4 linked regions of the Homo sapiens genome follow. The protein of the gene in region 3 purifies or fractionates together with the protein of the main gene of each other region. This does not show direct contact. Each region holds a gene or a part of one and is shown on either strand. Other genes may lie near its edges.

Region 1 (3,500 bases), on a different chromosome or scaffold from region 3:
CGCGTACTCCATCACGGTAGCCGCCTACACCATGAAGGGCGATGGCGCTCGCAGCAAACCCAAGGTGGTTGTGACCAAGGGAGCAGGTATGCAACCCGCCCTCCTCCCACCCACCAACAGCCCCTTTGCCCCCACTGGCACCAGAGCGTGACTCCAGAGTCCTTGAGCTCACAAGGGCAGGCAGAGGGTGCACCAGGCAGCTGGAACAGTGAGACAAAGGTGTGAGGGCTGCTCAGGTGGGTGTCCAGGGCCCAGCTTGGCCCCCCCCGCCCCTGCCTCCTCCTTTGTCACTCACTTCCTGTCCCCCCGGCTCCCACCAGACAGAAACAGTTAACAGCCACCTCTGACCCCTTTGCCCTCTCAACCTTTACTTGGGCTGTTCCCTCTGCCAGGATACCCCTTCCCCTGCTGGCTGGCTCCTCTTCTGCCTTTAGGTCTCAGCTCAAGGTACACCTGGCCCTGGAAAGCCTTCCCTGATTGCCTCATCCCATAATCTTGATCCTTCTGGGCCCCCTAGTCTCCTGTGCTTCCCCCATCCAGGCTCTGGTCGCCCCGGCTAGGTTGTTATTTCAGGGTGGTGCACCTGTCTTCCCCTACTGCACCAGGAAGCCACCTTTCTCTTGGTGGCCCTGCCTCAGTTTCCCCTTCTAGCCCCTCCATTGTCCCTTCCATCGTCCCCAAGGGGCTGGCTTTTTTTTCCAGCCAAAATGGAGCTGAATTAAGAAAAAGAGGCTGCCGTGAAGATGTAAGGGGAGGGTACACCGGGCGGAGGGCACAGCCCAGAAAAAGACTTGGGGGGTGGGGCGTGGTGGTGGTGGTGGTGGGCGGAACAAGCTCGGGTGTTTCAGGAACAATCGACTGACTTCTGTGGCCTTCATCCCAGTCCCCACACCCACCCTCTCCTCGGGGACCCTTGTAGCCACACCACTGTGTACCCCACCTTTCAGGCCTCCCAGCTGGACACAGCCCCTGCCCTTGTCCACACTATTCCCTTCACGCACCTTGTCTGCGTCCTCCAGCATCCAGCTCTAACGCCACCTCCTCCAAGCAGCCTCCTGTGATCTCTCCCTCCCTTCTTCTAGCCAGCAGGGCACTTCCCTCCTCTCTCAGGGACATTGTATTAGAGCTGTGTTTGCTAAGCAGAAACCACTGCATACGCTGCTCTCCCCACCACCCTGGGTATTCATAGCAGTCCATTCAAGGCCCTGATAAGTCCTGCAGTAGAGAAGTCCATTTTCATGTATACAGCCCAGCTTTCCCCCTTCTTTGCCTGATCCCAGAACCTCTCTCGGCACATTGATTACTACCCAGGCTGTGCGAAACAAAGAGCAGGGGCGGATTTTGGATTTCTTTATGTCCCATGGGTATTGGTCAGGTGCCTGCATTGAGCAAGGGCCAAATCAACAAGGCAGGAGATGGTTGCCTTATTAATGGAAGGAGGAGGGGTTCTCTGAGTCCTCACTTCCTTGCTGTGCTTTATGCGCCCCTAGCCCAGTGCCGGCTCTACACCTTTGCATGGGCCGTTCCCTCTTCCTGGAGCACGATTCCCCCAGATCTTCTCGTGGTTCCCTCTCTTTCTTCTTTCAAGTCTTTGCTTCTTAAGTGAGGCTTTCTTGAGACCTACTTTTATTTTTAAGACGGAGTCTTGCTCTGTTGCCCGGGCTGGAGTGCAGTGGCACGATCTTGGCTCCCTGCAACCTCTGCCTCCTGGGTTCAAGTGATTTTCCTGCCACAGCCTCCTGAGTAGCTGGGATTACAGGCGTGCACCACCACCCCCGGCTCATTTTTGTATTTTTAGTAGAGACAGGGTTTCACCATGTTGGCCAGGCTGGTCTCGAACTCCTGACCTGAAATGATCTGCCCATCTCAGCCTCCCAAAGTGCTGGGATTACTTACAGATGTGAGCCACCACACCCAGCCTTGAGATCCACTTTTAAAAATCACAACCCCAGGCTGGGCACGGTGGCTCACACCTGTAATCCCAGCACTTTGGGAGGCTGAGGCGGGTGGATCACCTGAGGTCAGGAGTTCAAGACCAGCCTGGCCAATATGGCGAAACCCCATCTCTACTAAAAATACAAAATTACCCAGGCGTGGTGGTGTGTACCTGTAATCCCAGCTGCTCGGGAGGCTGAGGCAGGAGAATCCCTTGAACCCGGGAGGCAGAGCTTGTAGTGAGCCGAGATGGGGCTACTGCACTTCAGCCTGGGCAACAGAGCAAGATTCTGTCTCAAAAAAAAAAAAAAAAAAAATCACAACCGCAGCTGGGTGCAGTGGCCTTATAATCCTAGCACTTTGGGAGGCCGAGGCAGGAAGCTCACTTGAGCCCAGGAGTTCGAGGCTGCAGTGAGCCGTGATCTCACCATTGCACTCCAGGCTGGGCAACAGAGTAAGACCCCCCCCAACTCAAAAAAATGTTATATTGAAGGAAAAGAATTAAAAATACAACCCCACCTTGTGCCTCTGGGCTGGCGGATGGCGCTGGGACCCTGACACCTGCCCCGTATCCCCGCAGTGCTGGGCCGCCCAACCCTGTCGGTGCAGCAGACCCCCGAGGGCAGCCTGCTGGCACGCTGGGAGCCCCCGGCTGGCACCGCGGAGGACCAGGTGCTGGGCTACCGCCTGCAGTTTGGCCGTGAGGACTCGACGCCCCTGGCCACCCTGGAGTTCCCGCCCTCCGAGGACCGCTACACGGCATCAGGCGTGCACAAGGGGGCCACGTATGTGTTCCGGCTTGCGGCCCGGAGCCGCGGCGGCCTGGGCGAGGAGGCAGCCGAGGTCCTGAGCATCCCGGAGGACACGCCCCGTGGCCACCCGCAGATTCTGGAGGCGGCCGGCAACGCCTCGGCCGGGACCGTCCTTCTCCGCTGGCTGCCACCCGTGCCCGCCGAGCGCAACGGGGCCATCGTCAAATACACGGTGGCCGTGCGGGAGGCCGGTGCCCTGGGCCCTGCCCGAGAGACTGAGCTGCCGGCAGCGGCTGAGCCGGGCGCGGAGAACGCGCTCACGCTGCAGGGCCTGAAGCCCGACACGGCCTATGACCTCCAAGTGCGAGCCCACACGCGCCGGGGCCCTGGCCCCTTCAGCCCCCCCGTCCGCTACCGGACGTTCCTGCGGGACCAAGGTAGGCGCGCGGCGACCCCTGCACCAGAGCCGGACCGGGCCTTGCGCCCACCCCCACCCCAGCCCCCTCCCTCTCCCCTGCCCAGGTAAGTGCTCACTTTTCTGCTTCCTCGTGGTCACTCAAGGCAAGTCCGGACCCCGAGGCTCCGGCGTTGGCAAAGGTGGGACGTGCCTCGGTGGCACCACCGCCCCCCACCACTGCCCCCTCCCCTTGCTCCCCTCCCCCCTCTTCCTCCTCCTCCACCTTCTTTCTGCAGCCTCTGCACCCGTGCCGTCTCCCGAAGCAGGGACTTGGGACAGGACAGGGCAGGGCCGGGCCAGGGCCAGGCAGGAAGGCCGTGGGCATGGGCACAGCGGACGACAGGGAGCGCCTGGGC
Region 2 (3,500 bases), on a different chromosome or scaffold from region 3:
TGTCTACATGTGTTGGCTCGGGGTGGTGGGGGCAAATGGACAGGAAGGAGGCACTGCCCTCAGCTCTCCTTGAGCTTTGGGGGCTGCTTCTGCCACCGCGCCCAACCCTCAGGCTGCCACAGCCTTTCAAATAAACAGTCCCTCTCTGTCTCCCTCCCTCTCTGCCTCCTGCCCGAGTTCTCCTCTCAGGCCCGTGTCAGTTCGCCCTCTCATACCCTCCGCGAGCAGCGCTCACTTCCCCTCTCCAGCTAGGCTCGCCTGCTCTGCCTTGCTCTCACACTCCCTCTCACTCTTAGTCACTCTCTGCCTCTTTTTCTCAAGTCCTTTTGTTTCTCGCACATGCCCGTGCTCTCCCTCTCAGGCTCATTTTCTCTCTTCCTTCCCCTCTTCCTCTCCTGGCTTTTGGTCTCTCTCCTCAGCCCTGTCAGAAGCTGGCAACCCCCCTCCCAAAAAAGAAAATCTCCCAGTGCCTATAAACCCTGCTTAATTGCTTCCTTCTTGGGAAAAAAAAAATCAAAATAAAAGAAGTGGTGGGGCTGGGGGTCCGCTTCCAGGTTCCAAGGTGCGTGCGGCCCGGCCCCAGCCCTGACTGAGAGGGGAAGCGGGAATGGCTGGCCCAAGACTCCCAAGCCTCTTTCCCAAATTGGTGCTGGGGCCTTCTGGGATGCTAGTCCCTGAGTGGCAGGAGCTTCTGCCTCCTTGGCCCCTCCTGTCAGATTTGCCCCATGAGCGCAAGGTGGGGGGATGGGTTTGGTCCTGCTAGAGTTTTTTTTAGGAACCTCTGTGTGTGCGTGTGTGTGTGTGTGTGTGTGTGTGTGTGTCTGAGTTGGGGGGCTGTTATCTAAATGGTCCTAGGCGACCCCTCCCGCAGCCTCTTCCCCTGGGAACTTGGGGCAGCCGGCAGGCCTCACACTTGAGTCCTCAGCCAAGTCCAGCTGCTGCAGTTCAGTCTCTCAGTCCCGTCCTGACCCCTTCCTGCCCCCCACTCAGGTTCCCCCACCTCCAGGGAGTCAGAATGTGCCTGAGATCACATTACAAACATTCCCTACAAGGGGGTGGGGGTGGGGGGGTTCAGCTTGGCATCCAGGACCCTTGACTCCAGCATGGGTGGGGGCAGCTGCAGACCCCAACCCATGCTTGCCTGCTCCAAGCCAAAGTGTTGGCCCCAGCCCCACACAGCTGTTCTAGCTCACAGTCCTGGGGAGGCCAGCTCAGGGGGCCCTTTTCCGGGGTGGTTAGGGACCTGACCTCTTCTACTTTGTGGCTGATTGGCCACAGGTGGGAGCCTGAGAGTGATGGGAATCCAGCAGCTCCTAAAGTCCCCTGTTCCCCTGCCTCCCCTCTCCCACATAGGGCAGCCAGGCAAGGGCAAGAAGGACCTGTGAGGCTGGGGTGGGGACTGAATCAAGGGTTCCCTTTCTTCCCTTGGGCTCTCTGTTGTCTCATCCGCTCAGGTGAATGGGGATGCGTGGGCCCTGGATACTATGGTGCATCACTGTTTTCTGGGGTTAGGGACTAAAGGAGATAGAGTGGGCCAGCCAGGAGGCTGCTAGTTGCCATGGGAACACCAGGTTTGGGGGAGAGTCCACTCTGTGACTATTAGAGGAGCTGAGATACGGGGGTGCTCACCAGCCACATTCTGGGTTCCTTACCCCGCAGACCATAGCAGCCCCTCTTGGGCGTGTTTCACGATCATTGTTTTGGGTCAGGGTGCTAGCAGCCAGGAATGTAAGCTCCTTCAGCTTTTTACTTCTAAATAATGCTGTGTTTGGCATGCTAACTAATAGGCAGGCGGCACCTTGCTACTTACAATGCATTCTCATATATGATCTCATCGAATGCTCCCAACAACCCTGGGAAGTAGGTATTGGTCCCATTTTCCAGATAAGAAGGCATATGCCCGGACAAGGGAAGTGACTTGTCTAAGGCCAGTCAATGACTTGCCTATGGGGGCAGAGCTGTGTTGTGTGCCATTCATTCCTGCTGCCTTGAAATGTAGGAGAGACAGGAATTCAAGGTGGGGTTTGGGAAGAGGCCCTGGCTCCCTGCCCCTGAGTTCCCCTCTTACCTCGCAGGTGTGCAAGCATCTGTCCCTGTGACTCAGGCCCTGTCTGTGTGGGGTGAGCAGTGCTCCAACTTCCTCATTTGACTTTTCTAGGCCTACCTTCCAGGGCTGACTGCTTGGGTGACCTGAACTAAAGGCAGCCAACTCACTGCCTGGCACACTCCCTGCGGAGCTCTGAGTGGCACCTTTGGTTCCTCTCTGAGCTAAGAATCTCTCTTCTCAGGGACCCCACAGAAAGCAGACATCGACATCGAGGAGGGGGGGTATTAAATTCATAATGGACACGAGCCTTAGCCAGGTGGGGCAGAGGGAAGGGCATAGTTCAGTGTAGATGGGGAGGGTGACTTCCTCCAGGACTCTCCTGGCTTCCCTGCCTCTGACAGAGCTGTGTGTGCCAGGACCCAGCTGCTGTTCCTGCCCACCCACGCCTGGGCGGGCACTGCTGGGACATGCCAGGCCTGCTCCTGCCAGCCTCGGGGGCTGGGTGGAGCTGGGGGAGTTAAAGAGGAGCCTTTAATTTGGGGGCTCCCCACCCTAGCTGGGATGAGAACAGACTTGAGCTCTGGCTTGGGGTCTGTCCTCCATTGGTCTTGCCACCCTGGGAGGTGCAGGTGCAGTGGTCGTGGGGTCACTGAATCGAGGTTGAGGCTAGAGGCTTCTACCAGACTTGGGCTTGCATGGCCTAGAACCAGGCTCCCCCTTTGGTCATTCTCTGACCACAAGTTGCTAGAGCCTGAGAGCAGGGTGACAGGGAAAGAAGTATAGACCTGGTGGGATGTGGGCAGCTTTCTGGGCAAGACCCTCCTAGCTGCAAGCTCTCCCTGCCCCCTGTAAATTGTATTCACATGGGTGGAGAAGGGCTTATCCGGAGAAAACAAGGAGGGGGCTGTTGGTTAGTTGGTTTCTGGCCAGTCCAGGGCCTTGGAGGCTACTGTCCCCAACCCCTTCAGGCTTTTCATATCCCAGGATTCTTTGTGGCAGTGATGGCATCGTGGTGCTTCTAAGCTAGGTAGAAAGGCTGAAGGTAGAACTTGGGTTAGGGTAGAGGGGGAAGAGCTGGAATAGCTTAGGCCGCCTCCCCCAAGTCCTTTTACTCCCTGGGGTGGCGCCCTGGGGTCCCAGGGCTATCTGAGGCTGGAGAGGGAAGGCCTCAGGGGTTACCATGGTGACCTGCTTCAGGCTTCCTGCTGAGCCATGTCAATCCCTTTATTTTTCAGAAAAGGGCTTTGTCTGGGGGTGGCCCCAGACAGAAAAGCTTGGCTTGGTCCTAGGGTGGGGGGAAGTAAGGTGGAGGATAAAGAGTTTCACTTCGGGATATCTCTTCCTCCTCTTCCCTTACTCCTACTCCTAATCTGGTAAGAGGGGAGAACTGTAGGGTCCCCCTTTAAAGTATGACTAGTGTTCTACCTAGCTTTGGCCTTCACTCTCACTGGCT
Region 3 (4,279 bases):
AGAGAAAGGGAAGGAGTGCAGGTGACTGTCCCTTAGCCACCCCAGTCCTGATGACCACAGGCCTCCATGCCAATAAGCCCTGACTAGTGCCACTTGGGTCCAAACATGGCATCTCTGGCCCCAAGGGCTTAGTAGCAAACACCCATCTAGGGAAGCTGGCGTTCATTCTCATCACCTCAAATGCTTCATGAGCCTCAGGGATCAACCTTGAAGTGGGTATAAGGCTGGGAGAATGTTGGGGGCAGCAAACTGAAGGGCACAATAAGAAGCAATAAGGCCACCTCAAAGCCCACCCAAGCAAACTGCTCATTCACCTCCTTCCTTCCTGAATTTCACCTTATGAGGAGGTGAGTGGAAGATAGGGTATCCCTTAAAACATCTAAAAGGAGAGTTGGGGGCAGCAAAGGAGATGTGCTTCACGGGACTCTTATAAACAAAACTGGGGAGAGAAGAATTGGAGGAAGGGGGAAAGACATAGATGAAAGGGAGGGGAAGGTGTGGGAGAGGGAAACGTATAAAAGCTTCCAAGAGGAGTGGGAGGCTGGGGGTTCCCCAGACAGAGACTCAGTCTGGACCAGATGCAGAGAACAATGGACTTCAAGGCTGGAGGGGGGCAGAAGGGAAGCGGGAGGAGAGCCACACGGTCAAGTTGCACAGGTTCTTGCAGCTTCTGGAATCAAGACCATGGGCACCCTCATAAGTCAGTGTGGGCAGGGACTGCCCCAGGGCCAATCCAAGATCCAGAGGTAGCCATAGGGTGTGACAAGTTGTGCAGATTACAACACTCACCCCTTGCAATAACGTCACTGCCTGTGACTCGGGGCCAGGCCCAGGCCAAAGCCCTTCCTACATCATTTCGTTTAATCCTCACAGTTTCCTGCTGAAAGGGCTACTATTCTTACTCCCATCCCCACTCTACAGATGAGGTAATGGAGGCCCAGGAAAGTTAAGTGACTTGTCCCAGATGACACCGCTGGTAAGTTGCAAAGTCAGAATTTGAACTCAGGCAGTTTACCTCTGATGGCTGCTCTGTTAATCACAGCTGCTTTCCAGTGAGACAAAAACGGGTGATCAGGGCAGAGTCAAGACAGAGAGGTAAACAAGATTGGGAAAAAGACAGGAATGAGAGGGGAACAATGGGGGAAAAGATAGGAACAAAGAGAGTTGGGGAAGGGGAGAGAAACAGGAAACATGACTTGCCCGGGAGGGGCATCAGTCCACGTGCAAGCAGGTGGAGGCTCAAGTTTTCTGCTCACTTGGTGATGCAGAGGCTCCCTTTCCCTCAGCAGCCGCCTTGCTGCGTGGACAGCAGCTTCCCATCTGGCCTGTCCCCGGAGCCCCGGCCTCATCCTCCTCAGCGGCAGGCCACTTAGCTTCACAGGAAATGCTCTTTCTCTAATTGGCATTGAAACTCACAGCCCTCCCTTTTCCTGTAGGTGGGGTTTCCATAGGAAAAAGCTGCTTCTCTGTTTCCCCAGCCTAGCAACTGTTTGGCAGTCAGAGTCCCACATCCTGCTCAACTGGGTCAGGTCCCTCTTAGACCAGCTCTTGTCCATCATTTGCTGAAGTGGACCAACTAGTTCCCCAGTAGGGGGTCTCCCCTGGCAATTCTTGATCGGCGTTTGGACATCTCAGATCGCTTCCAATGAAGATGGCCTTGCCTTGGGGTCCTGCTTGTTTCATAATCATCTAACTATGGGACAAGGTTGTGCCGGCAGCTCTGGGGGAAGGAGCACGGGGCTGATCAAGCCATCCAGGAAACACTGGAGGACTTGTCCAGCCTTGAAAGAACTCTAGTGGTTTCTGAATCTAGCCCACTTGGCGGTAAGCATGATGCAACTTCTGCAACTTCTGCTGGGGCTTTTGGGGCCAGGTGGCTACTTATTTCTTTTAGGGGATTGTCAGGAGGTGACCACTCTCACGGTGAAATACCAAGTGTCAGAGGAAGTGCCATCTGGTACAGTGATCGGGAAGCTGTCCCAGGAACTGGGCCGGGAGGAGAGGCGGAGGCAAGCTGGGGCTGCCTTCCAGGTGTTGCAGCTGCCTCAGGCGCTCCCCATTCAGGTGGACTCTGAGGAAGGCTTGCTCAGCACAGGCAGGCGGCTGGATCGAGAGCAGCTGTGCCGACAGTGGGATCCCTGCCTGGTTTCCTTTGATGTGCTTGCCACAGGGGATTTGGCTCTGATCCATGTGGAGATCCAAGTGCTGGACATCAATGACCACCAGCCACGGTTTCCCAAAGGCGAGCAGGAGCTGGAAATCTCTGAGAGCGCCTCTCTGCGAACCCGGATCCCCCTGGACAGAGCTCTTGACCCAGACACAGGCCCTAACACCCTGCACACCTACACTCTGTCTCCCAGTGAGCACTTTGCCTTGGATGTCATTGTGGGCCCTGATGAGACCAAACATGCAGAACTCATAGTGGTGAAGGAGCTGGACAGGGAAATCCATTCATTTTTTGATCTGGTGTTAACTGCCTATGACAATGGGAACCCCCCCAAGTCAGGTACCAGCTTGGTCAAGGTCAACGTCTTGGACTCCAATGACAATAGCCCTGCGTTTGCTGAGAGTTCACTGGCACTGGAAATCCAAGAAGATGCTGCACCTGGTACGCTTCTCATAAAACTGACCGCCACAGACCCTGACCAAGGCCCCAATGGGGAGGTGGAGTTCTTCCTCAGTAAGCACATGCCTCCAGAGGTGCTGGACACCTTCAGTATTGATGCCAAGACAGGCCAGGTCATTCTGCGTCGACCTCTAGACTATGAAAAGAACCCTGCCTACGAGGTGGATGTTCAGGCAAGGGACCTGGGTCCCAATCCTATCCCAGCCCATTGCAAAGTTCTCATCAAGGTTCTGGATGTCAATGACAACATCCCAAGCATCCACGTCACATGGGCCTCCCAGCCATCACTGGTGTCAGAAGCTCTTCCCAAGGACAGTTTTATTGCTCTTGTCATGGCAGATGACTTGGATTCAGGACACAATGGTTTGGTCCACTGCTGGCTGAGCCAAGAGCTGGGCCACTTCAGGCTGAAAAGAACTAATGGCAACACATACATGTTGCTAACCAATGCCACACTGGACAGAGAGCAGTGGCCCAAATATACCCTCACTCTGTTAGCCCAAGACCAAGGACTCCAGCCCTTATCAGCCAAGAAACAGCTCAGCATTCAGATCAGTGACATCAACGACAATGCACCTGTGTTTGAGAAAAGCAGGTATGAAGTCTCCACGCGGGAAAACAACTTACCCTCTCTTCACCTCATTACCATCAAGGCTCATGATGCAGACTTGGGCATTAATGGAAAAGTCTCATACCGCATCCAGGACTCCCCAGTTGCTCACTTAGTAGCTATTGACTCCAACACAGGAGAGGTCACTGCTCAGAGGTCACTGAACTATGAAGAGATGGCCGGCTTTGAGTTCCAGGTGATCGCAGAGGACAGCGGGCAACCCATGCTTGCATCCAGTGTCTCTGTGTGGGTCAGCCTCTTGGATGCCAATGATAATGCCCCAGAGGTGGTCCAGCCTGTGCTCAGCGATGGAAAAGCCAGCCTCTCCGTGCTTGTGAATGCCTCCACAGGCCACCTGCTGGTGCCCATCGAGACTCCCAATGGCTTGGGCCCAGCGGGCACTGACACACCTCCACTGGCCACTCACAGCTCCCGGCCATTCCTTTTGACAACCATTGTGGCAAGAGATGCAGACTCGGGGGCAAATGGAGAGCCCCTCTACAGCATCCGCAGTGGAAATGAAGCCCACCTCTTCATCCTCAACCCTCATACGGGGCAGCTGTTCGTCAATGTCACCAATGCCAGCAGCCTCATTGGGAGTGAGTGGGAGCTGGAGATAGTAGTAGAGGACCAGGGAAGCCCCCCCTTACAGACCCGAGCCCTGTTGAGGGTCATGTTTGTCACCAGTGTGGACCACCTGAGGGACTCAGCCCGCAAGCCTGGGGCCTTGAGCATGTCGATGCTGACGGTGATCTGCCTGGCTGTACTGTTGGGCATCTTCGGGTTGATCCTGGCTTTGTTCATGTCCATCTGCCGGACAGAAAAGAAGGACAACAGGGCCTACAACTGTCGGGAGGCCGAGTCCACCTACCGCCAGCAGCCCAAGAGGCCCCAGAAACACATTCAGAAGGCAGACATCCACCTCGTGCCTGTGCTCAGGGGTCAGGCAGGTGAGCCTTGTGAAGTCGGGCAGTCCCACAAAGATGTGGACAAGGAGGCGATGATGGAAGCAGGCTGGGACCCCTGCCTGCAGGCCCCCTTCC
Region 4 (3,500 bases), on a different chromosome or scaffold from region 3:
GCCGCCACCACACCTGGCTAATTTTTTTTTTTTTTTTTTTTTTTTTGTATTTTTAGTAGAGACAGGGTTTCACCATGTTGGCCAGTCTGGTCTCGAACTCCTGACCTCATGATCCGCCTGCCTCGGCCTCCCAAAGTGCTGGGATTACAGGCGTGAGCCACTGCACCCCACCACATTTTGGACTTTTTTTTTTTTTTTTTGAGACGGAGTCTCGCTCTGTCATCAGGCTACAATGCAGTGGCATGATCTCGGCTCTCTGCAACCTCCACCTCACAGGTTCAAGCGATTCTCCTACCTCAGCCTTCCGAGTAGCTGGTACTACAGGCGTGTGCTACCATGCCCAGCTAATTTTTTATATTTTTTTAGTAGAGACAGGGTTTCACCATGTTGGCCAGGATGGTCTCGATCTCTTGACCTTGTGATCAGCCCGCCTCGGCCTCCCAAAGTGCCGAGATTACAGGCGTGAGCCACCGTGCCCAGCCCACATCTTGGACTCTTAACAAAAATGCTGAAAAACCTGCACTGTGCTTGGCATAGGGCTGTGCTAGAGATTCAAAGATGAATCATGCAGGGTTCCAATCGTCAGCTCACCACCGAGTCCTGGAGTTACGCCACCACAAAGGCAGACAGTCTGGGGAGTAGGGGGTGTTGGCTGCTGACCCAGGACACCCAGCCCAGGATGGGGGCTGGCGCTGGTCCTGGACTGGCAATGAGCAGGTTCATAGGCAGGAAGTGGCGGAGAGCACAAAGTGGTGGCTGGAGACAGGCAGGATGGGGGCTCAAGGAGGTCGTATGCCCTGTTCCCCTAGAGCCCATGTGTGGACTGATCTTGCGGAGATTTTTGGCCCTGGTGTTCTACATACCTGTCTTCCTGTTTCACCAGGGCCCTTGTTTGCTAGTTACTGTCCCCGGCCCATGAGGTGCTGGCCTCCAGCAGAACCTCTCAGCCAGTCTCAGGGGCTTCCTGTGTGTCTCCCTGAGGCCGGCCCTTTTGGCTTCCTTCCCCCAGGGACTGCTGTGCGCCACTGTGATGAGCACAGGGGGTGGCTCCCCCCAAACCTCTTCAACTGCACGTCCATCACCTTCTCAGAACTGAAGGGCTTCGTAAGTGAACCCCCTCATCTCCATCTTTTCCCTGTCCTTCGTCCTGAGTCTCACTTGCCCCCACTCCCATCTTTGAGAACGGGGCTTCTGGAATTCCAGCCTGTGTGTTCCTGGGCTCCCAGCTGGAGAGGCCGTCTCTCACCTCCTGAGGTCCTTTTGCTCCAGAGTTCCTGCCCTCACTCCTGCTCCTCCGCTCCGTCCTGTCTAGGCTGAGCGGCTACAGCGGAATGAGTCAGGCCTAGACTCAGGGCGCTCCCAGCAGCTAGCCCTGCTCCTGCGCAACGCCACGCAGCACACAGCTGGCTACTTCGGCAGCGACGTCAAGGTGGCCTACCAGCTGGCCACGCGGCTGCTGGCCCACGAGAGCACCCAGCGGGGCTTTGGGCTGTCTGCCACACAGGACGTGCACTTCACTGAGGTGGGGCTTGGAGGATGCAGGGCTGGCTGGTTAGATAGGGGTCATGGTGAGTGAGCCTGCTCATGGCAACCTGGGGGGCAGAGGGGGCCCTCCCATCCCACCTACAAGGAGCTCCCTGCTGGCAGGAGGCCTCCATGAAACCCTGTGACCCCTGGCCCAGCCCTCTTCCCAACCCTTCTCATAGTAACATATGTGTGTTGGGGCATGGTCTGACCCAGAGCAGAGGCCTGCCTGTGGTACCATGGGCTGGGAGGAAGCAGTATCTCAGGACATGTGTGTGGGTCCAGGCACAGGGCTGGGAAGCTCTTATGTAGAGAATGAGGAGGAGGGCTTAGGGGCAGAGCATCCAGTGACCTGAGTGGGCAGTGCGGTCCAGGAGCATTTCAGGGGAGGCAACAGTGAGCACAGAGGGAGGGGCCTGGTGGGGAGCAGGGACTGGCCCGGGCACAGGCCGGGGCTCCATGGTGGGGATGTCAGGTGTGGGTTGTGAGCACACCCACCGTGACCTTGCCCACCCCAGAATCTGCTGCGGGTGGGCAGCGCCCTCCTGGACACAGCCAACAAGCGGCACTGGGAGCTGATCCAGCAGACAGAGGGTGGCACCGCCTGGCTGCTCCAGCACTATGAGGCCTACGCCAGTGCCCTGGCCCAGAACATGCGGCACACCTACCTAAGCCCCTTCACCATCGTCACGCCCAACATTGGTAAGGCTGGTGCCTGGGTTGGGGAGGGGTTTGTGGAGGGAGTCCCCGACAAGAGCGGCTGTGCTGGGGTCCTGCCTGCCTCACAGGTCCGATCTGTGACCATCCCCTTCCTTAGTCATCTCCGTAGTGCGCTTGGACAAAGGGAACTTTGCTGGGGCCAAGCTGCCCCGCTACGAGGCCCTGCGTGGGGAGCAGCCCCCGGACCTTGAGACAACAGTCATTCTGCCTGAGTCTGTCTTCAGAGGTCAGTGGTGGCCATGGATTGAGTTGGGAGCTGGACCCCAGTGTCTGTGCAGACTCCACAGAGAGCAGGGCCCAGCTAAGTGTGACAGTGTCCCCTCCCAGAGACGCCCCCCGTGGTCAGGCCCGCAGGCCCCGGAGAGGCCCAGGAGCCAGAGGAGCTGGCACGGCGACAGCGACGGCACCCGGAGCTGAGCCAGGGTGAGGCTGTGGCCAGCGTCATCATCTACCGCACCCTGGCCGGGCTACTGCCTCATAACTATGACCCTGACAAGCGCAGCTTGAGGTCAGCAGCTAGGGGACAGGTGTGGGTAGGGGTATGGGTCGGGCGGTGAGTGCTGAGGCATGGAGGGGGTCGGGGGCGTCTCCCCAGTCATGTGACTGCCGTGGTGACTGTGCACCTGACTGCCCCACATCAGAGTCCCCAAACGCCCGATCATCAACACACCCGTGGTGAGCATCAGCGTCCATGATGATGAGGAGCTTCTGCCCCGGGCCCTGGACAAACCCGTCACGGTGCAGTTCCGCCTGCTGGAGACAGAGGAGCGGACCAAGCCCATCTGTGTCTTCTGGAACCATTCAATCCTGTGAGCCTGCACTGCCCTCGCCCCCTCAGGCTTCGGGCTGAAAGTCCAGGCCCCTGCATGCCTCACCCTCCTTGTCTCCCTGACCCTGCCTTCCTCACACAGGGTCAGTGGCACAGGTGGCTGGTCGGCCAGAGGCTGTGAAGTCGTCTTCCGCAATGAGAGCCACGTCAGCTGCCAGTGCAACCACATGACGAGCTTCGCTGTGCTCATGGACGTTTCTCGGCGGGAGGTCGGGCCCACAGGGGCAGCTGCAGAGCCGTGGGTGGGCACCCAGGGCACGGGGCTGGGTGCTCAGGTCCTGCCCTTCCTAATTCCCTGGCCCCCTGCCACCTACTCTGCAGAATGGGGAGATCCTGCCACTGAAGACACTGACATACGTGGCTCTAGGTGTCACCTTGGCTGCCCTTCTGCTCACCTTCTTCTTCCTCACTCTCTTGCGTATCCTGC

Evidence for each region. Proteins that work in one complex are often made in the same cells at the same time.
Region 1: the proteins of PCDH12 (region 3) and PTPRS purify together in Homo sapiens (affinity purification with mass spectrometry; 2 studies listed by BioGRID and IntAct, with this or other methods). This does not show direct contact.
Region 2: the proteins of PCDH12 (region 3) and EFNB1 purify together in Homo sapiens (affinity purification with mass spectrometry; 2 studies listed by BioGRID and IntAct, with this or other methods). This does not show direct contact.
Region 4: the proteins of PCDH12 (region 3) and CELSR2 purify together in Homo sapiens (affinity purification with mass spectrometry; 2 studies listed by BioGRID and IntAct, with this or other methods). This does not show direct contact.

The regions. Positions count from the first base shown.
Region 1 is NC_000019.10:5,222,313-5,225,812, reverse strand, and holds part of PTPRS (receptor-type tyrosine-protein phosphatase S isoform 1 precursor), read left to right. Parts: coding exon 1-86; intron 87-2,515; coding exon 2,516-3,124; intron 3,125-3,500. UniProt on the Homo sapiens protein: Cell surface receptor that binds to glycosaminoglycans, including chondroitin sulfate proteoglycans and heparan sulfate proteoglycan.
Region 2 is NC_000023.11:68,832,021-68,835,520, forward strand, and holds part of EFNB1 (ephrin-B1 precursor), read left to right. Parts: intron 1-3,500. UniProt on the Homo sapiens protein: Cell surface transmembrane ligand for Eph receptors, a family of receptor tyrosine kinases which are crucial for migration, repulsion and adhesion during neuronal, vascular and epithelial development.
Region 3 is NC_000005.10:141,955,403-141,959,681, reverse strand, and holds the start of PCDH12 (protocadherin-12 precursor), read left to right. Parts: upstream 1-1,479; 5' UTR 1,480-1,830; coding exon 1,831-4,279. UniProt on the Homo sapiens protein: Cellular adhesion molecule that may play an important role in cell-cell interactions at interendothelial junctions. Acts as a regulator of cell migration, probably via increasing cell-cell adhesion.
Region 4 is NC_000001.11:109,266,539-109,270,038, forward strand, and holds part of CELSR2 (cadherin EGF LAG seven-pass G-type receptor 2 precursor), read left to right. Parts: intron 1-1,009; coding exon 1,010-1,104; intron 1,105-1,312; coding exon 1,313-1,522; intron 1,523-2,042; coding exon 2,043-2,226; intron 2,227-2,341; coding exon 2,342-2,470; intron 2,471-2,571; coding exon 2,572-2,752; intron 2,753-2,885; coding exon 2,886-3,053; intron 3,054-3,155; coding exon 3,156-3,282; intron 3,283-3,394; coding exon 3,395-3,500. UniProt on the Homo sapiens protein: Receptor that may have an important role in cell/cell signaling during nervous system formation.